7 linked regions of the Homo sapiens genome follow. The protein of the gene in region 6 purifies or fractionates together with the protein of the main gene of each other region. This does not show direct contact. Each region holds a gene or a part of one and is shown on either strand. Other genes may lie near its edges. The genes, in order: RNF138, OBSL1, PBX1, NFKBIL1, MEIS2, DNAAF8 and NAMPT.

Evidence for each region.
Region 1: the proteins of DNAAF8 (region 6) and RNF138 purify together in Homo sapiens (affinity purification with mass spectrometry; 2 studies listed by BioGRID and IntAct, with this or other methods). This does not show direct contact.
Region 2: the proteins of DNAAF8 (region 6) and OBSL1 purify together in Homo sapiens (affinity purification with mass spectrometry; 2 studies listed by BioGRID and IntAct, with this or other methods). This does not show direct contact.
Region 3: the proteins of DNAAF8 (region 6) and PBX1 purify together in Homo sapiens (affinity purification with mass spectrometry; 2 studies listed by BioGRID and IntAct, with this or other methods). This does not show direct contact.
Region 4: the proteins of DNAAF8 (region 6) and NFKBIL1 purify together in Homo sapiens (affinity purification with mass spectrometry; one large-scale study listed by BioGRID and IntAct). This does not show direct contact.
Region 5: the proteins of DNAAF8 (region 6) and MEIS2 purify together in Homo sapiens (affinity purification with mass spectrometry; 2 studies listed by BioGRID and IntAct, with this or other methods). This does not show direct contact.
Region 7: the proteins of DNAAF8 (region 6) and NAMPT purify together in Homo sapiens (affinity purification with mass spectrometry; one large-scale study listed by BioGRID and IntAct). This does not show direct contact.

What each region holds. Positions count from the first base shown.
Region 1 is NC_000018.10:32,108,874-32,112,373, forward strand, and holds part of RNF138 (E3 ubiquitin-protein ligase RNF138), read left to right. Parts: intron 1-2,880; coding exon 2,881-3,046; intron 3,047-3,500. UniProt on the Homo sapiens protein: E3 ubiquitin-protein ligase involved in DNA damage response by promoting DNA resection and homologous recombination.
Region 2 is NC_000002.12:219,565,040-219,568,539, reverse strand, and holds part of OBSL1 (obscurin-like protein 1 isoform 1 precursor), read left to right. Parts: intron 1-215; coding exon 216-485; intron 486-570; coding exon 571-822; intron 823-964; coding exon 965-1,267; intron 1,268-1,413; coding exon 1,414-1,710; intron 1,711-3,025; coding exon 3,026-3,298; intron 3,299-3,500. UniProt on the Homo sapiens protein: Core component of the 3M complex, a complex required to regulate microtubule dynamics and genome integrity. It is unclear how the 3M complex regulates microtubules, it could act by controlling the level of a microtubule stabilizer.
Region 3 is NC_000001.11:164,789,684-164,793,183, reverse strand, and holds part of PBX1 (pre-B-cell leukemia transcription factor 1), read right to left. Parts: intron 691-3,500; coding exon 446-690; intron 1-445. UniProt on the Homo sapiens protein: Transcription factor which binds the DNA sequence 5'-TGATTGAT-3' as part of a heterodimer with HOX proteins such as HOXA1, HOXA5, HOXB7 and HOXB8. Binds to the DNA sequence 5'-TGATTGAC-3' in complex with a nuclear factor which is not a class I HOX protein.
Region 4 is NC_000006.12:31,550,608-31,554,107, forward strand, and holds part of NFKBIL1 (NF-kappa-B inhibitor-like protein 1), read left to right. Parts: intron 1-3,500. UniProt on the Homo sapiens protein: Involved in the regulation of innate immune response. Acts as negative regulator of Toll-like receptor and interferon-regulatory factor (IRF) signaling pathways.
Region 5 is NC_000015.10:36,888,704-36,891,626, forward strand, and holds the end of MEIS2 (homeobox protein Meis2), read right to left. Parts: 3' UTR 501-2,923; downstream 1-500. UniProt on the Homo sapiens protein: Involved in transcriptional regulation. Binds to HOX or PBX proteins to form dimers, or to a DNA-bound dimer of PBX and HOX proteins and thought to have a role in stabilization of the homeoprotein-DNA complex.
Region 6 is NC_000016.10:4,737,537-4,741,036, forward strand, and holds part of DNAAF8 (dynein axonemal assembly factor 8), read left to right. Parts: intron 1-263; coding exon 264-410; intron 411-2,616; coding exon 2,617-3,123; intron 3,124-3,500. UniProt on the Homo sapiens protein: In cyliated cells, dynein axonemal particle-specific protein required for deployment of ODA to the axoneme. Interacts with outer dynein arm (ODA) subunits.
Region 7 is NC_000007.14:106,271,484-106,274,983, reverse strand, and holds part of NAMPT (nicotinamide phosphoribosyltransferase precursor), read left to right. Parts: coding exon 1-38; intron 39-2,325; coding exon 2,326-2,454; intron 2,455-3,500.

The sequences.
Region 1 (3,500 bases), on a different chromosome or scaffold from region 6:
GTCTCACTATGTTGTCCAGGCTGGCCTCAAGTAATCCTCCCGCCTTGGCCTCCCAAAGTGCTGGGATTATAGGCATAAGCCACTGCCCATGGTTTTATGTATATAGGTTTGATGGGTATATACTTCAGAGTGGAATTTATGCGCTCTAATGGATATTGCCACCCAGTTTTCCAAATGGTTGTAAAAGTTTATACTCCCATAGCCTCCAATGTGAGTTTAGGTTGGTTCATATCCTCCCTAACACTTGGTATTTCCCACCGTTTTCATTTTTGTCTTTTTCTTTCTTTTTTTTTTTTTTTAAACAAGGTCTCACTCTGTTGCTCAGGCTGAAGTGCAGTGGCACGATCTCAGCTCACTGCAACCTCTGCCTCACAGGCTCAAGTGATCCTCTCACCTCAGCCTCCTGAGTAGCTGGGACTACAGGCATGTGCCACCATGCCAGGCTAGTAGAGATGGGGTTTCACCATGTTGCCCAGGCTGGTCTTGTGAGCTTAAGCCATTTGCCCCGCTCAGCCTCTCAAAGTGCAGGATTACAGGTGTGAGCCACTGTGCCTGGCCATTGTTTTATTATTACTATTTTTTTAGAGACAGGGTCATGCTGTGTTACCCAGGCGGGCCTTGAACTCATTGGCTCAAGAGACCCTCCCACCTCAGCCTCCCAAGTGGCTAAGACTACAGGTACATGCTGCTGTGCCCAGATTTGGTTACTTTTACTATTTTTAAAACTAGTTTTGCTGGGCACCATGGCTCACGCCTGTAATCCCAACACTTTGGGAGGCTGAGATGGCTGGATCACTTGAACTCAGGAGTTCAAGACTAGCCTGAGCAACTGGCAAAATCCCATCTCTACAAAAAGTACAAAAATTAGCCGTCGCAGTGGTGCATGCCTGTAGTCCCACCTACTGGGTAGGCTGAGGCAGGAAAATTACTTGAGCCCTGGAGGCAGAGGTTGCAGTGAGCCAAGATCGCACCAGTGTACTCCAGCCTGGGCGACAGAGCGAGGCTCTGTCTCAAAAAAATAAAATAAATAAAACTAGTTTTTAGTTTGGCAAGTGAAAACTGGCATCTTGTTTACTTTGCGTTATTTTGGTTTCTGGCTATGGTAAATATTTTTAATTGTTATTGTTTTTTGAGAGACAGTATTGCTCTGTCACCCAGGCTGGAATGCAGTGGCACCTTCATAGCTCACTACAGCTTCAACCTCCTGGGCTCAAGTGATCCTTCGCCTCAGCCTCCTGAGTAGCTGGGACTGGACGTGCATGCTACTATACCCAGCTAATTTTTTTTATTTTTAATTTTTGTAGAGACAGGGTCTTGCTATGTTGCCCAGGCTGGTCTTCAACTCCTTGCCTCAAGCTGTCCTCCTGCCTTGTCCTCCCAAAGCACTGGGATTATAGGCATGAGCCACTACGCCCTGCCTAATGTTTTAGTTTATGGTGTTAATTGGTAATGACTTCTAGTGCTGCTTTAATGATATTAACTACTATTTATTGAGCACTTTCCTGACCATGACAAATAATGTGTTAAGCATTTTATACTTGTTATCTATTTTAATCCTCTGAACAGCCGAATCAGTTGTAGATACTTTTATTATTTCGTGAGTGAGGAAACTGATATTAGAGGGAAAAACTGACTTGTTTAAAAGTGCTGCATAGTTAGGAAACTCAGGTTATGTGATCTGTTACTGCACCATTTCCTCTCAACTTCTGTTAGTATAGAGGAGGAATATTCATATATATTTATAGGAGATTGGATTAAATGTATATGTATTCTAGATCCCAGATATATATGTCTGTAATTTAACTGGTTCTCTTGAAAGCAAAATGATCAAATAAGGTATTTGGTGGGGCTAGAGAAGATAAAAAGATTTTAGTTTGATTCTAATTAGAAAGTTGGTTATAAATGTTTAATCTTTTTTTTTTTTTGAGACGGAGTCTTGCTCTGTCGCCCAGGCTGGAGTGCAGTGGTGCAATCTCGGCTCACTGCAACCTCTGTCTCCTGGGTTCATGCCATTCTCCTGCCTCAGCCTCCCGGGTAGCTGAAACTACAGGCGCCTGTCACCACGCCCGGCTAATTTTTTATATTTTTAGTAGAGACGAGATTTCACCGTGGTAGCCAGAATGGTCTTGATCTCCTGACCACGTGATCCGCCTGCTTCAGCGTCCCAAAGTGCTGGGATTACAGGCGTGAGCCACCGTGCCCGGCAAAGCCGGAAGTATTCTTAAGTATTTCTCAAATTATGTTCCATTGCATACTGTTTGGGAAATTTCCCTACTTCCGGACCAAATAACCAAATATCTGTTAACACGCAGATAACTTTGGGTAACACCTAACTTTGGGTAAAACCTATTAACTTTATCCTAGAACTTCCCAAACCAATTTGTGTGCTCTTTTGTAGTAGACCTGTTTATGTCTTGTGGAACAACATGTCGATATACATCAGTTTGAGACAAAAGCTTATGTTACTCATCCTTTTATTTTGTAAGGGGAGGAAATGGAGATCCAGTGTGCGTTAATTTGTTGGCCTAAGATTACACAGCTACTAAATGGCAGAGCCAGGATCCGGTTTTTCCTTTGTACCATGCTTCCTCTAGTAATATTATTAATATGTAGCATTAATATTTATTCATCATATATTATGTTAAGAAGTTGTAAAGCAGACTTGAGTGTAATTGTTCAAATATTCCCATCTAGTCCAGTTATCAGTCTTACTCTCTGATAAATACATATACAGTTACTAAACTTCTGAGATTTATGTACATATGAGTAGCCTAACTTATTTAATATGAATACATATTTATAATCACTTGTTTGTATTTAATTATAGAGATGAAGAGAGTAATTTTTTTTGTAATTAATGTGTCACAATGTTTGGTTTAGTTTCTGTAGAAAATGTTTCCTGACTGCAATGAGGGAAAGCGGAGCACATTGTCCCCTATGTCGTGGAAATGTGACTAGAAGAGAGAGAGCATGTCCTGAACGGGCCTTAGACCTTGAAAATATAATGAGGAAGTTTTCTGGTAGCTGCAGATGCTGTGCAAAACAGGTAGAGTAAATGTGACATCTCTCTTCTTTGGAAGCCAAGTTTCTACTCTGAAATTCTTATTTGAATTTTCTTGGTTGGTGTTTTTTTTTTTTTTGAAAAGATGAAAGGTATTTAGACTGGGAATTGGATAGAAAAGGCCAAAAAAAGCTGTGGTCATAGATCTTACTAGATTATAAACTTACTGAGAAATGAGACTGAAAAAAAAATCACTGAATTTCATAATACTTAGCGTGGCATTTTTCTAAAAGTAATTTCTCATTGATTACTTGCTAAAGTAACTAAATTAGCAAGCTGGCATTTAGCTCATTTAAACCCCATTCTGGTACAAATTCACCCCTTAAGTTTTTCTCATGGTAGCATCATTATTGCAGCTTTACACATAGAAATGTTACTAGTTTGGGCACATGGATTTATGTAGTTTAAGGAACTCTCTAGCTCCTCACTTTACTTATGT
Region 2 (3,500 bases), on a different chromosome or scaffold from region 6:
TTGCTTAAGGTGATGTGGCTAGTGTCAGGGCTGGATGAGAACTCAGGTCATCTTAGGAACCACCACTTCCCTTCTGGTAGTTTTCTGTGATTCCACAGTGCCCGCTGGCTCTGCATGAAGAGCACACAGCATGAGCTAATGCGCTTCTAGGTATCCTACTCCTAGTCTGGGCCTTCTCCAGAGCCCTCTCTTGTCTCTCTCTCCCCTCTCCACAGAGCCCCGCCTCCGGTTCACACGGCCCCTGCAGGACGTGGAGGGCCGTGAGCACGGGATTGCCGTGCTGGAATGTAAAGTACCCAACTCCCGCATCCCCACGGCCTGGTTCCGTGAGGACCAGCGGCTGCTGCCCTGCCGCAAGTACGAGCAGATCGAAGAGGGCACTGTCCGGCGCCTCATCATCCACAGGCTGAAGGCAGACGATGATGGTATCTACCTGTGCGAGATGCGGGGCCGGGTGCGCACCGTGGCCAACGTCACAGTCAAAGGTCAGCTGGCCCGTGGGGAAGAGGCTGAGGCGGAGGCAGGCAGGTGCTCAGATTCCAGGTTGATGGATTCCTGTCCGCATCTCAGGGCCCATCCTGAAGCGCCTGCCCCGGAAGCTCGACGTCCTGGAAGGAGAGAATGCTGTGCTGCTAGTGGAAACTCTAGAGGCCGGGGTCGAGGGACGCTGGAGCCGTGATGGGGAGGAGCTGCCGGTCATCTGCCAGAGCAGCTCAGGCCACATGCATGCCCTGGTCCTTCCAGGGGTCACCCGAGAGGATGCTGGCGAGGTCACCTTTAGCCTGGGCAACTCCCGTACCACTACGCTTCTCAGAGTAAAATGTGAGGGCAGGAAGGCCTCTGGACAGGCGAGGCAGGGCAGGAGGTTGGCCAGATGCCGGAGCTGGGTTGGTGAAGTAGATTTAAGGTGGAAGGGCTGTGGAGGCCCAAGCAAGGCCGGAACACATCCCTGCCTTGGTCTCAGGTGTCAAGCACAGTCCCCCAGGACCCCCCATATTGGCAGAGATGTTCAAGGGCCACAAGAACACGGTCCTGTTGACCTGGAAGCCTCCCGAGCCAGCTCCCGAGACCCCATTCATCTACCGGCTGGAGCGGCAGGAAGTGGGCTCTGAAGACTGGATTCAGTGCTTCAGCATCGAGAAAGCCGGAGCCGTGGAGGTGCCGGGCGACTGTGTGCCCTCCGAGGGTGACTACCGCTTCCGCATCTGCACAGTCAGCGGACATGGCCGTAGTCCCCACGTGGTGTTCCACGGTTCTGCTCACCTTGGTGAGTTGGTCCTGCCAGACCCACCCATCACTTCTCCTCCCTTCCCCAGCCCTCAGTGCTGGTCCTCTCACAGGCTTGCCATCCGCCAGCCTCTGCCCTCTGCCACACCTTCTAGTTCTGACAGCTGCACTCTGTCCCTGCCTCAGTGCCCACAGCTCGCCTGGTGGCAGGTCTGGAGGATGTGCAGGTATACGACGGGGAAGATGCCGTCTTCTCCCTCGATCTCTCCACCATCATCCAGGGTACCTGGTTCCTTAATGGGGAAGAGCTCAAGAGTAACGAGCCGGAGGGCCAGGTGGAACCTGGGGCCCTGCGGTACCGTATAGAGCAGAAGGGTCTGCAGCACAGACTCATCCTGCATGCCGTCAAGCACCAGGACAGCGGTGCCCTGGTCGGCTTCAGCTGCCCCGGCGTGCAGGACTCAGCTGCCCTCACAATCCAAGGTTGGTGCCAGTGGGGACCTGAGTGGGCAGAAAGGGTCAAGACACAGAAGTCCTGTTGGCAAAACGAGGCAGATGCTGTTTTTATTTCTTGTATCTGGGCCAGGAGAGCAAGGAGCATCCATGATGGGCTGAGGTTGAGGGCTCAGAGGTCCGGAAGGCCAATTTCAACCCACATGCAACATCCAGGGCACCCCTTGTTATCTTGATATATGTCAGCATCATATCCCAATTCTCTGGAGTGCTTTGTGGTTTACAGAATCCTGTCAGATTTGTCATCTCATTTGAAAGACACAGACCCTGGCTGCTAGTCCCTGCCTGCCTCCTGCCATGTTGTCTAATTGTTGACATTGTCATCGCAACTTTCTACGTGCCAGGCGCAGTCCTAATCACCTTACATACATTAACACAATCTTCTCAATGGCCCTATAAGATAGGTTCTTTTTTTTTTTTTGAGATAGAGTCTCACTCTGTCGCCCAGGCTGGAGTGCAATGGCGCGATCTCGGCTCACTGCAACCTCCACCTTGTGGGTTCAAGAGATTCTCCTGCCTCAGCCTCCCGAGTAGCTGGGACTACAGACATGCATCACCATGCCCGGCTTGTTTTTGTATTTTAGTAGAGATGGGGCTTCGCCATGTTGGCCAGGCTTATCTCAAACTTAAGATAGGTTCTTTTGACATTCCCATTTTATAGCTGGGGAAACAGGCAGATACGTTAAGTGACTTGCTCAAAGTACGGAGCTAATGAGCACAGGTGCTGAATTATGAACCCAGGCAGTCGGGCTCCTGATCACACTGTGCCACCTGTTGAAAGGGGGAAGGAGGGGAATGAGGCATCCCTGAGGAGAACAGCTGGAGGTGGGGCGCTCAAAGTTCAAGGATCACGCTAGCATTTGCCATGTCACCATTGCTGGAGTTTGTAAGACCAATCAAGGAATCTGTCGGCACCCATGCACGGGGTCTTGGGGTGATTCACTGTCAGCATCGCAGGCAGAGGGGCCAGGTGAGACCTGACCAGCAACCAGAGCAGCATTTCCAAAATGGGATCCCAGTTCACTGACATCAGAACCACCTGGAGGGCTGGTTTATAATGCAGATTTCCTGGCCCCTGCGTGCTTGGGAATCCAAGAATTCTGCATTTTTAGCAGGCTCCCTAGGAATTCTTATGCACAGCCAAAGCACTGCTCTTAAGGGTTGGTGTGGAAGCCTAAGCCTATTTTTAAAAACCCCAACAACAGCAGTTGTTCCCTCTGATGCATCCGACACTGAGCCCATGCACCGGAGGGAGGGGTGCTTATCTGTACTTCTCCCCACACAGAGAGCCCGGTGCACATCCTGAGCCCCCAGGACAGGGTGTCGTTGACCTTCACAACCTCAGAGCGGGTGGTGCTGACTTGTGAGCTCTCAAGGGTGGACTTCCCGGCAACCTGGTACAAGGATGGGCAGAAGGTGGAGGAGAGCGAGTTGCTGGTGGTGAAGATGGATGGGCGCAAACACCGTCTGATCCTGCCTGAGGCCAAAGTCCAGGACAGTGGCGAGTTTGAGTGCAGGACAGAAGGGGTCTCGGCCTTCTTCGGCGTCACTGTCCAAGGTCAGGAAGCATGCCAGCCTGGGCTCCTCCAGCCAAGGCTGATTGTGGGGCCGCATAAGCCATGCCCTCTGGTCTGCTGCCTACTTGGGGGAGTCCTTTACAGGGAGAGTCCAGTGGCCCAGGGGACATGTTTCAGATAACTCTGCACTTGCTTTTTTGTTTCTTGTTTTTTTTGGAGACAGGCTCTCACTCTGTTGCCCTG
Region 3 (3,500 bases), on a different chromosome or scaffold from region 6:
CAGAAAAAGTATAGGCCTCCTGATAAATAAGGAAAAACAAGGGCCAGAGAAAACCTCCCACCTTCTTGCAGGTTAGCTGGTGACTCTGCTGATCACCTATAGCGCCCGGATGAGAGCCAGGCCTGCACATCACAGACACACGTTCTGGAGTCCAGGTATGGAGTGTTCCTTCTATGCACGATTTATGTTTCCTTGAAATCATTTACAGCGTCACACATTTTTTAATGCCTTTACCTCCATTGAATGCCTAGGTTTTTAACAGTTGAGACCAGGACTTGGCAGACTCAAGTTTGGCCAGGGCTCTGTGGCTGGGCAGGGGATGCCGGGCACAGGGATGCCAGCACCTGGGAAAGGTGAGCCGCTCCTCTCTGCAAGCCCCGGGGTTGTGCTTCCTCCACCCTTTCCTAAAGGGCCTGGGTGCCGAGCCCCAGGTGGTTCTGGTTACCTGCTCGTATTTCTCCAGCTCCGTATGGTAGATTTGTCTGATCTGTGAGAGTTTGGCTCTGTAATCTGAATGCTCCACTGAGTTGTCTGAACCTGCCCCTCCAGAAGCCGCCGCCGCTGCCGCCGCTGCCGCCGACCCTCCGCCCTTCTCAGGCCCCGCCACGCCTTCCGCTAACAGCATGTTGTCCAGCCGCATCAGCTGGGGGTCTGTGGGTTCCTCCTCCTGGGCTCCTCGGATACTCAAAACTACAGAAAAAGACAGGGAAGGGAGCGTTAATAGTAACCCAAGAAAGAAAATAAAAAACACAACACATTTGTGTTCTTTGGCTACATAAGCTGCCAAGTTACTTGCAAGATGCCATTTGAGGAATAGAAGAAAGGCTGGAAAAAGAGAGAAACTGAGAGGGTGAGAAAATGAAGGAGGGACTTGCTTTGTTCCAAAATTACACTCCACTTGTATGTGGAATCTCGAATAATCAAATTTATAAGAGGCAGAAAGTAGAATAATGGGTACCATGAGTTGTGGGGAGGAGTGGGGAGCTATTGTTTAATGAGCGCAGAATTTCACTTTGGGAAGCTGAGTTTTTGAGATGGCTGCAAAATAATACTCAACTGTACACTTAAAAATAGTTTAAAATGGTAAATTCGGCACTTTGGGAGGCTGAGTGGGGGGTTGATCACGAGGTCAGGAGATCGAGACCATCCTGGCAAACATGGTGAAACCCCGTCTCTACTAAAATACAAAAAATTAGCCAGGCGTGGTGGTGCGTGCCTGTAGTCCCAGCTACTCGGGAGGCTGAGGCAGGGGAATCCCTTGAACCCAGGAGGCGGAGGCTGCAGTGAGCTGAGATCACGCCACTCATTGCACTCCAGCCTGGGCAACAGAGCAAGACTCCACACCCCCACCCCCCAAAAAGGTAAATTCTATCTTATATATATTTTACCACAATAAAAAATTTCAACTAGAAAAATGTAATCATAACAAAATATATTTTTTACTTTCATCCCCATACTACCTAATTTCAATTTAAGGAAAAGCATTTCCCTCTTTATTTCTCCTTTTAAATTTCCATAAGTCTGTGGTTGTGCACTCATTGCCTTTCTTTGCAATGCTTGATCAGTCTAAATTTTTCATTTCCAAAATCACCTGAAGTACACAAATCCAGTACATGTGGAACGAAATCTTCAGACCTTTCCTGTGGACTAGCAGAGAGTGAGGTCTAACATAGCAAGAAGACAAATTGGCCCTTGAGCAGGGTCGTTTAGCTCCAAACATTGAGATCTATGTGTTCCGAGTGATAAGGACTCTGTCCTGTTGGAAACAAGGGTGAGGTCCTTTTAACAAGCTGTCTCCAGGGTTTCAGGGAAGCCAGTGCTCTGGTAGGATGGCGTCTCAGATCAATGAGATGGCTGATCTTTATGAAAACACCAGGACCCTTGGTGGTGATTTGGACTGAAGGAGATCCAGTGATTTAGTAAATCAGCAGAAGAGCGAGACAGTCTTTTTTACTACCCCTTCAGACAACCTCCCATAAAATAAATCACTCATCTAAATCCAGTTCAGTTGTCAGCAGCCAAGTCTTTGTTAAGAGGGAACATAAAAAGTGTTTTCAATTTTTAAGAAATTGAAAAGAATGTGTGGGTAGGGTGGGAAAGAGGGAAGTGATTAAAGGCAGAGGAGAGGGGTCCGGTGTTGGTTGACATTTTGGGGATGGAGGTGGCAGGGTCTAAGTCCCTGGTGGATATCCACACACCAGAGCACAGTCAAGAGCTGTTTTCATGGCAGAGTGCATCTGGTGAGCCCCAGGGGGACAGTGCCAGTTCCAGGTGTCTCCCAGCCCTGGCAAAGCAGGGCTTCGGGTTGTAACAGGGAAGGTGAAGATGAGCTCAATGAGGGTATGTCTAGATGTTTGAGCGTCATCACATATAATACCAGCATAACTGCTGGCTGTGCCCACATGCTCCTGGCTGCCAACAGGCAGCAAAAGAACCAACCCTGAACGTTGTTCAGAAGGAAATCCCAATTCCTAGGCCAAAAGGAAAACTACAGTATGGCTCTCACAAAACACGAGACCATCAAATGGAATGGCGAGCCATGTGGATCAGTGGTGGCCATAAAGAGCAAAGAGGACAAAAGGTGCAGGGCAGAAGCTTGGGCTCCGTGGTGAAGTAAAAAAGGATGAGAGGAAGGAAAGGAGGGAGGGAGGAGGGAGAGCAGGTAGCTGGGAAGGAGAAAAGAAGGAAGCCTGCACCCTAGACGCAAACCACAACACTACCACGTCATGATCTTCTCTCTTCAAACCTGAATATGTAATATTCTGCTACACAAAAACAAAATTGCCATAGTGGTGACGGCAAAAGGTTAGGAGGTCATTGAGGTTTATTTTGTGGACTTTTTTTTCCAATAAAATCCTTCCTTTGTAGGCTCAGGAGACTGAATGGGAAACTGCTCCTTTGGCTGATCTTTGCACAATAAGGATTTAGTCACGTTATTGTTTCTTAAATTTATTTACTTAAATCTCCGAAGCACTCTGAAGAACAAATTGCCACTAACAAAGGTTTCCTTAAGAAAGTAGATGGCTGCTGTAACCATGCCCTGAATACCAGGCCCTAAAGGCACCGAAAAGAATCTCGGGGCATCCAAACATCTGGCAGCAGCGCCCAGCAGCCTCTCCTTCACCTCTATGTGGTTGTTTCTCTTTATATGATAAATTTTAATAGCCTTATCCACAAAGAAATTTATGGGTCATTTACAAATTAGAAAAAAAAAAGAATCGCCTCTGAGCCATTAATAAATATAGTTGTTTCACTTTAGCTCGATTATTCAAAACATTGTGCTGGGGCAAAATTCTACTCTCTCATTCGCTCACTGAATCTCATGTCCAATATACTTCCTTCAGAAGAGGCCGTAAGCCCCCACGGCTGGCAGGAACATTCCCCACGAAGCTGAGGCTGGTAACCCTTCAGCTGGGTGTTAATGCCTTCAAGTGGGTCCACCTGGCTACTCCACACCCAACTGGTCCTGCATGCGGCCCAACACTGAGAGATTTTAGGAC
Region 4 (3,500 bases), on a different chromosome or scaffold from region 6:
CCCAGCTCTGCCATCAACAGGGACATGCAGCTTACCTCTGTGAGCCCAATTTGCCTCGCAAAAATGGGAGTTTTGTTTTTTGTTTTGTTTTGTTTTTTTGAGATGGAGTTTCCCTGTTGTTGCCCAGGCTAGAGTGCAATGGCGCGATTTCAGCCCACCTCAACCTCTGCCTCCTGGGTTCAAGAGATTCTCCTGCCTCAGCCTCCCAAGTAGCTGGGATTACAGGCATGCACCATCACGCCCGGCTAATTTTGTATTTTTGGTAGAGACGGTTTCTCCGTGTTGGTCAGGCTGGTCTCAAACTCCCGACCTCAGGTGACCTGCCAGCCTAGCCTCCCAAAGTGCTGGGATTACAGGCGTGAGCCACCGCGCTCAGCCAAAATGCCCCTGATAGTGTGGTAGGGATTTCCTTTATTGTTTGTTTGCTTGTTTGTTTTGAGACAGGGTCTCATTCTGTCTCCCAGCCTGGAGTGCAGTGGTGCAATCATGGCTCACTGCAGCCTCTACCTCGTGGGCTCAAGCAGTCCTCCCACCTCAGCCTCCCTAGTAGCTGGGACTACAAGCACACACCACCATGCCCAGCTAATTGTTTGTATTTTTGGTAGAGACTGTTTTGCTATGTTATCCAGGCTGTTCTGCATCTCCTGAGTTCAAACAGTCTGCCCACCTCGGCTTCCCAAAGTGCCGGGACTAGAGGCGTGAGCCACCACACCCAACTCCATTGTATTGAATTTTAAGAAGCTGGTGAGACTGATATTATCCCATTTACAGATGAGGAAAGCAGGGCCCAAAAGGTTCGGGAACTTGTCTGAAATCTCACAGCTCTCAGGTCATTGTCTTCCAAAGGGGGACCCAAGCTCAGTGCCTTCACTCCCAGACCCTGGTGTCCTCTCTGGCCTTATTTACTCCTGGTCCTCTGCCAGCCCTGCCACCAGATGGCCTTCTAACTCCTTGGTTGAAAGGCCCATCTCATTCAGCTTCCAGCTTCCTTTTTCTTTTCCTTTTGAGACGGAGTCTTGCTTTGTCGCCCAGGCTGGAGTGCAGTGGCATGATCTCGGCTCACTATAACTTCTGCTTCCTGGGTTCAAGCGATTCTCCTGCTTCAGCCTCCCAAGTAGCTGAGATTACAGGCACACACCACCATGCCCAGCTAATTTTTTTATTTTTATTTATTAATTTTTAAATTTTTATTTGTTTATTTATTTTTGAGACGGAGTCTCCCTCTGTTCCCCAGGCTGGAGTGCAGTGGCAGTATCTTGACTCACTGCCACCTCCGCCTCCTGGGTTCAAGTGATTCTCCTTCCTCAGCCTCCTGAGTAGCCGGGACTACAGGAGCCTGCCACCATGCCCGACTAACTTTTGTATTTTTAATAGAGATGGGGTTTCACCATGTTGGCCAGACTGCTCTCGAACTCCTGACCTTAGATGATCCACCTGCCTCGGCCTCCCAAAGTGCTGGGATTACAGGCATGAGCCACCATGCCCGACCTAATTTTTGTGTTTTTAGTAGAGATGGGGTTTCAACATGTTGGCCAGGCTGGTCTCAAACTCCTGACCTCAAGTGATCCACCCACCTCAGCCTCCCAAAATGTTGGGATTATAGGCATGAGCCACCGTGCCCATCCCACAGAATGTCTTTTGGTTTTGTTTTTGTTTTCTGTTTTGTTTTGTTTTGTTTTGTTTGAAAAGGAGTCTCATTCTGTCGCCCAGGCTGGAGTGCAGTGGCACAATCTCGGCTCACTGCAACCTCCACCTCCCAGGTTCAAGAGATTCTCCTGCCTCAGCCTCCCAAGTAGCTGGGACTATAGGCGTAGGGACTGTAGGCGTATGCCACCACGCCTGGCTAATTTTTTGTATTTTTAGTAGACACGGGGTTTCACCATGTTAGCCAGGATGGTCTCGATCTCTTGACCTTGTGATCTGCTCACCTCAGCCTCCCAAAGTGTTGGGATTACAGGCGTGAGCCACAGCGCCTGGCCAAAATGTTTTTATGTTTATTTTTCTTAGTATGAAACTCCAGCGTATTAAAGAGCATTGAGAACGGTTGATCTGGTAAATCGCTATAAAGGCGGCATTTCTTTTTTTTTTTTTTTTTTTTTTTTTTTGGCGAAGTGGGGGATGGAGTCTCATTCTGTCGCCCAAGCTGGAGTGCAGTAGTGTGATCTCGGCTCACTGCAAGCTCCGCTTCCCAGGTTCAAGCCATTCTCCTGCCTCAGCCTCCCAAGTAGCTGGGATTACAGGCGCCCGCCACCACGCCCAGCTAATTTTTTGTATTTTTAGTAGAGACAGGGTTTCACTGTGTTGGCCAGGCTGGTCTCGAACTCCTGACCTCATGATCCGCCCGCCTCGGCCTCCCAAAATGCTGGGATTAGAGGCGTGAGCCACCGCGCCAGGCCTAAAGGGGGCATTTCTAATACTGGAGAAAGGTGAACTTTTTTTTTTTTTTTTTTCCGAGACAGAGTCTCGCTGTGTCACCCAGGCTGGAGTGCAATGGCGCAATCTCAGCTTGCTACAACCTCCGCCTCCCGGGTTCAAGCAATTCTCCTGCCTCAGCCTCCTGAGTAGCTGGGCACCTGCCATCATGCCCAGCTAATTTTTGTATTTTTGTAGAGATGGGGGTTTCACCGTGTTGGCCAGGCTGGTCTTAAACTCCTGTCCTGACCTGAGGTGATCCACCCACCTCAGCTTCCCAAAGTGCTGGGATTACAGGCATGAGCCACTGTGCCTGACCAGGTGAACTATTTTATAAATAATATTGGAACATTTGGCTCATCTAGGGAAAAACAAGAGTCCCACCTCACACCTAATCAAAAAGTAAATTCCAGCAGATTAAATACCTGAATATGACAGGAAGGTACACACCAAATTCATGGGACAGATGGCCTGGGGAGGAATGAAACTTGGAAGGCGGTATCACGGTAAACTACCTTTATCTGTGATGATTTTATTTCCTTAAAATAAATTATACTACAAACATGACAGTACATTAACAAACCCTGTGGTAGGAATGGGGTTGTGTATTGTATTATACTTTGTATTTTTGAGAGTTTTTTAATTTCTTTTTTGTTGTTGTTGAGACAGAGTCTCACTCTGTCACCCAGGCTGGAGTCCAGTCGCGCAATCTTGGCTCACTGCAACCTCTGCCTCCCGGGTTCAAGCAGTTCTCTGCCTCAGCCTCCCAAGTAGCTGGGATTACAGGCATCCGCCACCACGTCAGGCTAATTTTTGTATTTTTAGTGGAGACGGGGTTTCACCATCTTGGCCAGACTGGTCTTGAACTCCTGACCTCATGATCCACCCACCTTGGGCTCCCAGAGTGCTGGGATTACAGGCATGAGCCACCGCGCCTGGCCGAGTTTTTTAATTTCTAAAAATAAAAATGAGTATACATCTAAAGTAGTAGAAGAAAATGCAGAGAATGTTTTATAATCTTAAAATAGAGCCTTCCTAAGAGTGAAGTGAAATAAAAAGTCAGAAAATAATATATTGATATAGATTTA
Region 5 (2,923 bases), on a different chromosome or scaffold from region 6:
CGGACACCGGACTTTCTAACTGAGTGGCAACTTGTAGCGGAGGTCCAGGCTCCTTATCAAATTGCTGGCCTGCTAGCTAATGGAGAACTTGTGGAGGATCCCTGTCCAGTCCCTTTGAAGGAAGGTCCCTCCTTTGACAGCTGCTAGAGATATTAGCCACATTTCCCTTCCCAAATCTGCTCCGGGTTAACAGGCCCGCGGGGGCGGGAGGGGGTGAGGAGGCAGGAGGATCCTGGTGGACTCTAACGAGGGTGAGAGCTGAGGGGCGTGAGGGGTGCTGACCTAGGGGGTGGAAGAGAGGAGGGGTGGACGGAAGACACAGACTTTCCTGGTCTTTTCTCTCTTTTTCGTTTAAAATGTGGCTTCTTGCTCAATTCCCAACCCTTAACAGATGGCGACTGCAGTTCTCTCAGAATTTCTTAAAGAAAGGGAAACCTTTGGAATTTATTTCTGCTTTTGCTTTTTCATATAAATAAAAAAGTGTTTTTATATTACTCTTGTTTTGGAGAACATAAGCAATTTTATTCAGACTACAGTATTTCCTTTAACACTATATGGTTGTCAAAACACCATTCCCAGTTTCTTTGCTTTTGACAGCTGAGTCTTTCTTAAATATACCCAAATCGGAACTCTTTACACTAAATAGTAAACCCGAGATAGGAGCAAGTGCCTTCCGGGGTGGTGTAAAAAAAGCATTATAAAAATTGGACAAATCTATCACTTCTCTGTGTTATCATGGGGTTGGGGGTGGGGGAGAGCAAGGTAATGCAAACAAATATTACAATTATCATTCATCTCCAAATATTTAAGAAGGTTAAAGTTAACATGATAGGACGTGGGTTTGACGAATAAACTAAGCATGAGATGACTTTATTCATTAAAACCAAGAGTTGAGAGCTCTGGTCTCTAAACTTCAATGAGATAACTTGATAATTGCATAAAACACATCCTAAACACGAGCCAATTGCCAAGGAAACCCTTCAGAATTTACTGAGTGGAAAGAAAAAAAGGTTCTTTTTCCCACCTGATGTGAGAGTTGATTTATAATGGGGAATTTTCATAGTTTACATAAAAGTATTTAAAGTAAAAATAGGCAAATATTTAAAATTTACAAAAAGACTTCATGTAAAATAGAATAGCAAAAATGAGAGGGAAGCTATCTCTCTTTCCCAAGTGGCACTGAATTTCTCTATTAAGTTAGTTTGTGTCAGAAGCATTATTTCTATGTTTAAACAGCAACACAACACTTAAACTGAAATGTATTTGTAAAAATTCTACCTGACTAAATATAACACAAAACAATAGAAGTGTATTTCCTCGTTCATTTATATAGAACCTCCATAAATGCTGTCTGAAATGGAAAGATGGAAGAGCCCCAAATAATAACTATGGATTTCTTCCAAGTTTAAGTTTGCAGAGATGATGAATAATTTCCTTAGCCGGTTGACATCACATATCTAGCCAAAGTATATGACATTATTCTTTCTAAACAAAGATTCAAAATTTAAGAGTTAAAAAATTCCAGGATAGTATATTTATTTGAAAATTGAGGGGACATGCCTCACCCTTTTTGCACACTTTAGCAGACATTGTTTGTGCAGTATCAATAAGCTAATGGTATAGATTTCCAGGAATGTTGCATAAAATTTTGAAAATGGCATTATACCGTCCATTTTGTTTTGTTTTGTTTTCAGAAAAAAGTTTAAGTTTAGTTATCAAATCATCACACTAGCATCCCTGCACATGGATGTGTCTGAAATAAAAATATACCACAATATAATTTATAAAATATTAATGATTAAGTAATCTTTTAAAGTCAGAATTTCAAACTCCATAGAAGTTGTTTACTTATCTATGAACACCCATATGTAAATTTTCATTTACATATCCAACAATATTGTAGTAAGACAGGCAGAGGAAAAACACAGGCAGATAAATTACCTTTGAGCACAGACATTATTTCTTATGTTGTAAAATTAACCCTGAAAAGTCCTTTATTCTGGCAGAGGATGCCCATGAAAAGCTTTATCTGAAAGTATATATTTTTTAACGTCATGCATCTAAAAAGGAGGTTGAGCATGTTCAAGGGGATCTTTCAACCTGGCTCATCATGTACACATAGTTTCGTACCTTTAGAAGTTTTCTGCTGGTGGAACTTATAGGTCAAATAGACATTGAAAGGCTATAGATGATTACCTTAAAAATTATTGATGAGTTTAAAATATACTCAACTGCTGGGGGGAAAAACCTACTTTTAACACTGTATAGAGTTGGCATTGTGCAGTCTTGTCCTAAAACCATTAAAAACGCAAAAGCCTAACAAAAAATCAAAAATGAAATATTTATTACCGCTTTTTGTGACTTAACACCTTTTTTTTTTTAACATAACGTCACAGTCCTCATACAAGTATTTTAATGTAAATTTGACAAAGCTTAAAGGTAACAGCATTTTCTTCTAGTGAGGAACACGTGCTGAGAAAAGAAGAATTCATGGACATACAATACCAATTCCACAGCAGATCTGATACTAGCAAAAACATTCTTTTTTTTTTCAATTGAGGTAAACACATAGAATATCTAACATGAAACAATTAATAGACCGAACTCTGTACGAAGTTTGTTACAGTATTCTCTTGCTCCTTTTTATCCCCCAAGCTTTGAGTTTCTGATAAAGTCCTAGTTATGGTTCAATGACCATTAATAACTTTTTTTTGTGTTGAGGAAAGCTGCCCAACTTAAGATTGTTTTGTCCACAACCAAGGCTCAGAACTCCTGGAAGAAGCTCCTGCTCTGTCTTTAAATCTTCATTGGCAAGCTCTTTGAAGAAGAGTCCCCCAAAAATAATAATAAGAATTGGCTTATGAAGCACGAACTATAAAGATCTGTTTGAAACTAAAGGACACATTTATGGAGGAACAAAGGC
Region 6 (3,500 bases):
CAGAACCAGGAGCCCCAGTCTCACCTCCACGAGGTTGTGCTGCCAAGCCCATTTCTAAACGGTGGCAAGAAGCCGCGCACAGCAAGGCTGACTGGGAGAGAACCGGATCTCCCCCAGGCTCCTGAGCAGCAGGGCTGGACGGGCTGGATGGGCTGGGCGGGCTGGGCTGGAAGTGAGAGTGGAGAGTGGAGAGCGGGGGTGGCTAGGCCCTCAGGGCTCTGCCTGCTGCCTTGTCCTCCAAAAGCCCTCTCATTTGTCCACAGTCGGACTATGGGGAAGAGGAGCTGTTCATCTTCCAGCGAAACCAAACCTCCCTGATTCCAGACCTGTCGGAGGAGCTGGCTGAAGATCCTGCCGATGGCGACAAGTCCAGGGCCTGGGTCGCTGCAGCTGAAGAGTCCCTTCCCGAGGTCTGTGGGACACAGAAGAGTATACGCCTGTGTGTGTGCGATGTTAGTCTAAACTGACTGGTCTAAACCACTGTTCTAGCATTTCCACGATATGCTAGAACATGGTCCTTTTTTTTTTCCCCCATGTACAACCCAAGGTATTCAGATGCCCAACATCTAACCTCCACGCACCTCCCTCTCCTGGGGAGCCCGGCACCTTAGGGCTGGCATGCACGCTTGATTTTCCATCCGATTTTGACCCTTCTCTTCTTCTTGATCGCTCCTATCCTGTTCTCTACCATGGCATCCTGAATAGCTTCTGGCCATTGTCACAACTGCTTGTCCTAATTGTCTCTCCCTTAACCCAGCTGGCTTCATGGCTACCTGGCTCATCCCAGCACCTGGCGAGTACACAGGAACTCTGGTTTACTAAACTGCTAAACTACACTGCTACAGGCTACAGTGGGGAGTGGGAGGGAGGAAGATGGCCCATCAGTGCCTGAGCAAGCACACAAGCTGGACCTCGTGGGAGGGACAACCCAGGAGACAATGAGCAAATGTGGACTAAGCGTGCCAACGCAGGCCTGTGTTGCCAGTGCTGGAGGCTGAGACAGAGGTTCCCATGAGGCCAGGAGTTTGAGACCAGCCTGGGCAATACAGCAAGACCCCATTTCTGGCTGAGCACAGTGGCTCACGCCTGTAATCCCAGCATTTTAGGAGGCCAGTATGGGTGGATCACTTGAAGTCAGGAGTTTGAGACCAGCCTGGCCAACATGGTGAAACCCTATCTCTACTAAAAATAAAAAAATTAGCTGGGCATGGTGGCAGGTGCCTGTAATCGCAGCTACTCCAGAGGCTGAGACAGGAGAATCGCTTGGACCCGGGGGAGCAGAGATGGCAGTGAGCCAAGATCACACCACTGCACACTCCAGCCTGGGCAACAGAGTGAGACTCCATCTAAAAAAAAAATAATAATAAAGAAAAGAAAACAGTGTAGAGGCACTAACCCACTTCCAAAATGGAGACGGGGCCTAGCTCCAGCGTAACTTCTCTCAGGTGTTCTGCTGAGAACAATTAACCTACTGAATGGGAGGGCATGGGCACCGAACCAGATCATCTCCCAGAACCAGGACATGCACCCACCCATCACCTTGAAGGAAATCTCCCATCAGCCCAGCCATTCCTAGACCTAGGTTTGAAATAACCCCACACAAGAGAGATCCCCAGGGCAGCTAAGAACTCTGGTGGGTTCAGGTGGAACAATTTGCATGTGATTTTATTTTGCTGCTTCATTTTTACAATCAATTACTTCAGAAACTCTTCTGGATGATTTTTTCTTGTTTTTTTTTTTTTTTTTTTTTGTAATGTGGGATCTCTACTAAAAAATTAGCTGGGTGTGATGGTGTGCCTGTGGTCCCAGCTACTCAGGATGCTGAGGTGGAAGGATGACTTGTACTCTAGCTTGGGGTATGAATTTCTGAGCCCCAACATTATCATGATTGATAATTTAAATATTGTTTCATTGCTGTAACAGTGCATTCCACTCTAGCCTTGTATTTAAATAGCAGGATGCCTCAGTGGTGCTGTCTTTAGCCAGCCCATATTCAACAGTAGCTTTCCAACTTTTTTTTTTTTTTTTTTGGGACAGGATCTTGCTGTGTCACCCAGGCTGGAATACAATGGTGCCCTCACTGCTCACTGCAGCCTCCACCTCCCGGGCTGAAGCGATCCTCCCACTTCAGCCTCCCAAGTAGCTGGGATTACACGCACGCCACTGTGCTGGCTCATTTTTGTATTTTTAGTAGAATGAAGTGTGCAGTTAAAAATGGTTAAAAGAGGTCAGGCACAGTGGCTTGTGCCTGTAATCCCACCACTTTGGGAGGCTGAGGCAGGAAAGATAGCTTGAGGCCAGGAACTTGAGACAAGCCTGGAAGACCAACTATGTTGTAGAGACTCTGTCACTACAAAATAATATTAAAAAAAATTAACTGGGCCTAGTAGTATGTGCCTGTCATCCTAGCTACTTGGGAGGCTGAAGTGGGAGGATCGCCTGGGCCAGGGAAGTCGAGGCTGCAGTGAGCTATGATCGCACCACTGCACTGCAGCCTGGGCAACAAAGCGAGACTTCACCTCAAAAAAAAAAAAAAAGTACATATTTTTCTATGAAAAACATTCCCTGAAGCATGTTTTTGAGGATGCTAACTGAACATACCTGTTTTCTTGACAGCCAGTTCTGGTGCCTGCAGAATTGGCCACAGAACCTGGGTGCAGACAGAACACAAGGACAAAGGATGCATCCTCTCAGGAAGGAAGAGACCCTGGCAGGCCTTTTGAAAGCTCTGGTGAGGTCAGCGCTCTTCTTGGGATGGCCGAGGAGCCCCCCAGGTGGCTGGAAGGCGACCTTGGAAGCCTGTCTTTCAACACCAAAGGATCCCAGGGTCCTCCCTGGGACCCACAGGCCGAAGCCACTCTCTCCTGCCATGAAGGAGACCCAAAGGCAGAGCCCCTCAGCACTGCCTCACAAGAATCTGTGAACCGCCGGGCCCTCCGACAGGAGAGAAGGAAGATGATAGAGACGGACATCCTCCAGAAAGTCACCCGGGATGCCTGCGGCCCGACCAGCAGTGACAAAGGTGGGGTGAAGGAGGCGCCCTGCCACGCTGCGGAGTCAGCTCCCAGATCCAAAATGCCCCTCGTGGAGCCTCCGGAGGGACCACCAGTGCTCTCGCTCCAGGTAGGCGCCTCCCCGTGCCTGGCTGTTTCTCAGGCCTGTTACCTGTGGCATGGCTGCTGTTCCCATGCACTGGAGCTAGAAGCAGCTTGAGGGCTGGCCCACTAGGACCTTAGGCCCATTATCCACCATTCTGTGTACCTGTCTCAGTAGAGGGGTGGAGGGTCCCAGCAGAGCACATCCTGGGGGAGGGTTAACAAGAACAAAGAACAAGCAGGGCCTGCCTTCCTTAAAGAGAGAAAAGGAGGCCAGGCACAGCGGCTCGCACCTGTAATCCCAGCACTTTGGGAGGCCGAGGCGGGAGCCCCGGAGTTCAAGACCATCCTGGTCAACACAGTGAGACCCTCATCTCTAAAAAAAAAAGAAATCATCCTGGCTAA
Region 7 (3,500 bases), on a different chromosome or scaffold from region 6:
ATGTCTTTAATGAAAAGGGATGGAACTACATTCTTGAGGTAAAAGATGGTTTCATCTTTTGATCTGTTTTGGTTTTTCTTTCAGTTCAAAACTTCTTGCAAAGGAATTTGTTTTTGTTTTGTGTTTTTTGAGAGAAAGTGTCACTCTGTCACCCAGGCTGGAGTGCAGTGGCACAATCTCGGCTCACTGCAACCTCTGCTTCCTAGGTTCAAGCTATTCTCCTGCCTTAGCCTCCTTAGTAGCTGGGACTACAGGCACGCACCACCACACCTGGCTAATTTTTGTATTTTTAGTAGAGATGGGGTTTTACTGTGTTGGCCAGGCTGGTCTCAAACTCCTGACTTCAAGTGATCTGCCCACCTTGGCCTCCCAAAGTGCTGGGATTACAGGTGTGAGCCACCATCCCCGGCCAGAATTTGAATAAGAGATTAGAGTATCATTACAGTTCTTTTTTGTTTGTGATCTGAATATAATGGCTATTTCATAGCCATTATATATCCTTTTGAAAAGTTATATTATAGCCAATATATCCTTTTGAAAAGTTAAGGTTGACATTTTATCCCTCTCCCCGCATCCCCCATGTTAAATCATTAGCATATAGAATCTACAGCAAGTCTAAGTAATTAATAAAAATGAATTATAACTTAAATAACATTTTTGAGAAAGATAATTCATTCTTGAAAATACACTATAGGTAGGAAAGGGCATGGTTATTTGGCAATTTCAAAATGTAGGTCTGTTTTCTTGACTGAAAATAGATGCTGTGAGTCTATCACTACACATAATTCTGGGAAGTTTCTCACTGTATAGTGAGAATGGCTTGGTGCTGATCCACAAAGTTGATTTTTAGTCTTGATTGTATTATATTTATATCTAGTATGTTTGAATTCATTGCCTAAATATTAAGGCACTCAAAGACATGGTAATAGAATTATAAGAGTTAAATATCCCGTGGTGGTTTCCTTTTATTACAATGATCAGTTGGGAATGGAATCTGTTGGCGTATCTTGATGTTGAGTGTTACTTTTAAGTCTCACAAACGAAAGTTTCTTACATTGAAAAGACTGTCAAACACAGAATAATTAGAAATACTTTAACTTTCATGCCTATATGACAATACTGAGCTATACTATTTGGTACTTATGGGTCTTGAAAAAGTCAGGTAAGTACTCTGTGCTGCACTTTTCCTGTATCTTAAATAAGGTCAATAGAATCTGTGAGCTATCACCTGTACTTGCTCCATTTCTCTTCTGTGAGGTTTGTTGTAAGGATAAATACAGTAATAAGTTAGGTACTATGCTTATTACTATACTGTCCAGTGGCCAGGGCAATAAGTCGTTTGATTATATGATCAGAAAATCTTGGGGAACTAAAGGTTCTCTAGAGATAATCTGGTCTAACCCCATTTTACAAACAGAATCTGAGACCGAGAGATGGCAAGTGACTAGTCCAGGGTCTCCCCGCTGCTTTTGAGTCCAAACTAGGACCTGTAGGGCAATGTTCTTTTTGCTATACACTGTGCCTCCAGTGCTTGTATTAAACAGATTTTTCTTGTATTTAATTACCTTGTCCCAAATCACATAAATAAATTATCAGGATTTCTGAAACAGCTTGCCTTCCTAGTGAAAAGTTAGGCACAGCTCTTAGCTTTAAAAGGGAGGTACAGTGTCACATAACAAATAACCTTCAGCCTAATTTTGGAGGCAATTATTACATTAAGAGGAAGTCAGTTAAGTCATACTCGAGTGTTAATTGCCAAGATTCTGTGTTTGGCCTGTCTCATAGTTTCAGGTCCACGACCAGAATAGAGGGAACCTATTTCGGTTCTTCTGCAGGGATTTCCCTAGCTCTCCTTCTCTCTCGTTTTGTTTTCTTTTGTTCTTTAATAGCAATCCTTTATCTTTCAATCTGCAGCCTTTATTTTGTGAAAATAACGAATTTAGAATAAAGGTAGTGTTCTTGGAATACTTTTAGAATATGTTGGAATAAAGTCATCCTTTCTCATTTTCTGAAAAAGCAGGGAAGAAGCAACAGTTTGGTTTTGATGAGTTTGGAATTTTCTGCCACTTGTAGTGATAAATGTTCTTAGCAGAAGCACGTGGCAGCATTAAACTTAAAAATTAATATCAGTACGTATGTTAATAATTTTAACTAGTTTTATTTTAGAAGGATAAGGATATTCTGACTAGATTACAGTAACATCTACAATTGCAATTTCTATGACAGTAAATTTAGCTTCTATAAAACGTAAAGAACCTTTAGTAAAACAGCAGGGAATTGAGTATCATCTGTTGAATAAATAAATTTATCATTTTATCCTGCCAGAAGTATGATGGGCATCTTCCAATAGAAATAAAAGCTGTTCCTGAGGGCTTTGTCATTCCCAGAGGAAATGTTCTCTTCACGGTGGAAAACACAGATCCAGAGTGTTACTGGCTTACAAATTGGATTGAGGTAAATTGTTTTTTTAATTCTTATTTAACATTAATTGAATAAAGACCATTGAACTGAGATTACAGTTTAGAATTTGTTACTAATAAAGCTATATAATCTCCTATAATTTACTTAACCTTTCCAGGCTTCAATTTCCTCATCTATAAAATGACAGACTAAATAATCTTTAAGGTTTCTTCTAGTAGAATAGAATGTTCTGAGATTTTGTTTAAATCAAATTATTGAGAGTGATTGTTTTTAAAACCTAGTTGGCTTTCATCTAATTCATTGCCATTTTAAGTGTGTATTATTTTAGAGCAAACTTAGAAAAACAGCACATTTCTAGTAACTTACGACATTCGATGAATGATAAATGTTCAAGTTAGACTAAAGGAACTTTATTCCAACTTCTAGTAACTACTTTCTTCATTTTTCTCTCATCAGTTTAGGTCTTAGGATCTACCATCTGTTACTTTTCAGTTTCTCATCTAAATAAAACAAGATCTGCTGTTCATATTGTTTAATTTCTCAGGAAGGGTACATTTTGGGCTTTGGGTTTATACTGCGAGCCTTTTTTTTGTTTTTCTTGTATGTATACCTAAGTAGTCATATGTTTTCACATGGTCAGAGTTTTGATAATAATACTCTACCTAGCTTCTGAACAGTTTAATAATAGATTTAATCCGTGAGAGGAAATACCCTCGAAAGTTACTATAGAAATAACACCTTACTATCTGGTGGCATTTACTTAGTTCTTAGAACTGACTAATTAGTTTATCGGTTAAAGTAATTTGCTATTATATTGTAAAATAGTACATTTGAGGCTCACTTATAAAAATTGGAAAACATCGAAATATAAGAGGTCCAAGAGGGTGTTTGAAACACATTTTGCTAAGTTGACAGGAAATTAATAGACTTTTTATGGGCCATTAACTAATAATACACTCAAAAAAAAGGTACAGTTAAATAAAGGTTTTAAATAGTCTATACCGTATACTAAAACTAAATTAATATTTAGGACTGAAATAACATATTGATTAAGTACCAGCTATGTACCCAAAAAATGC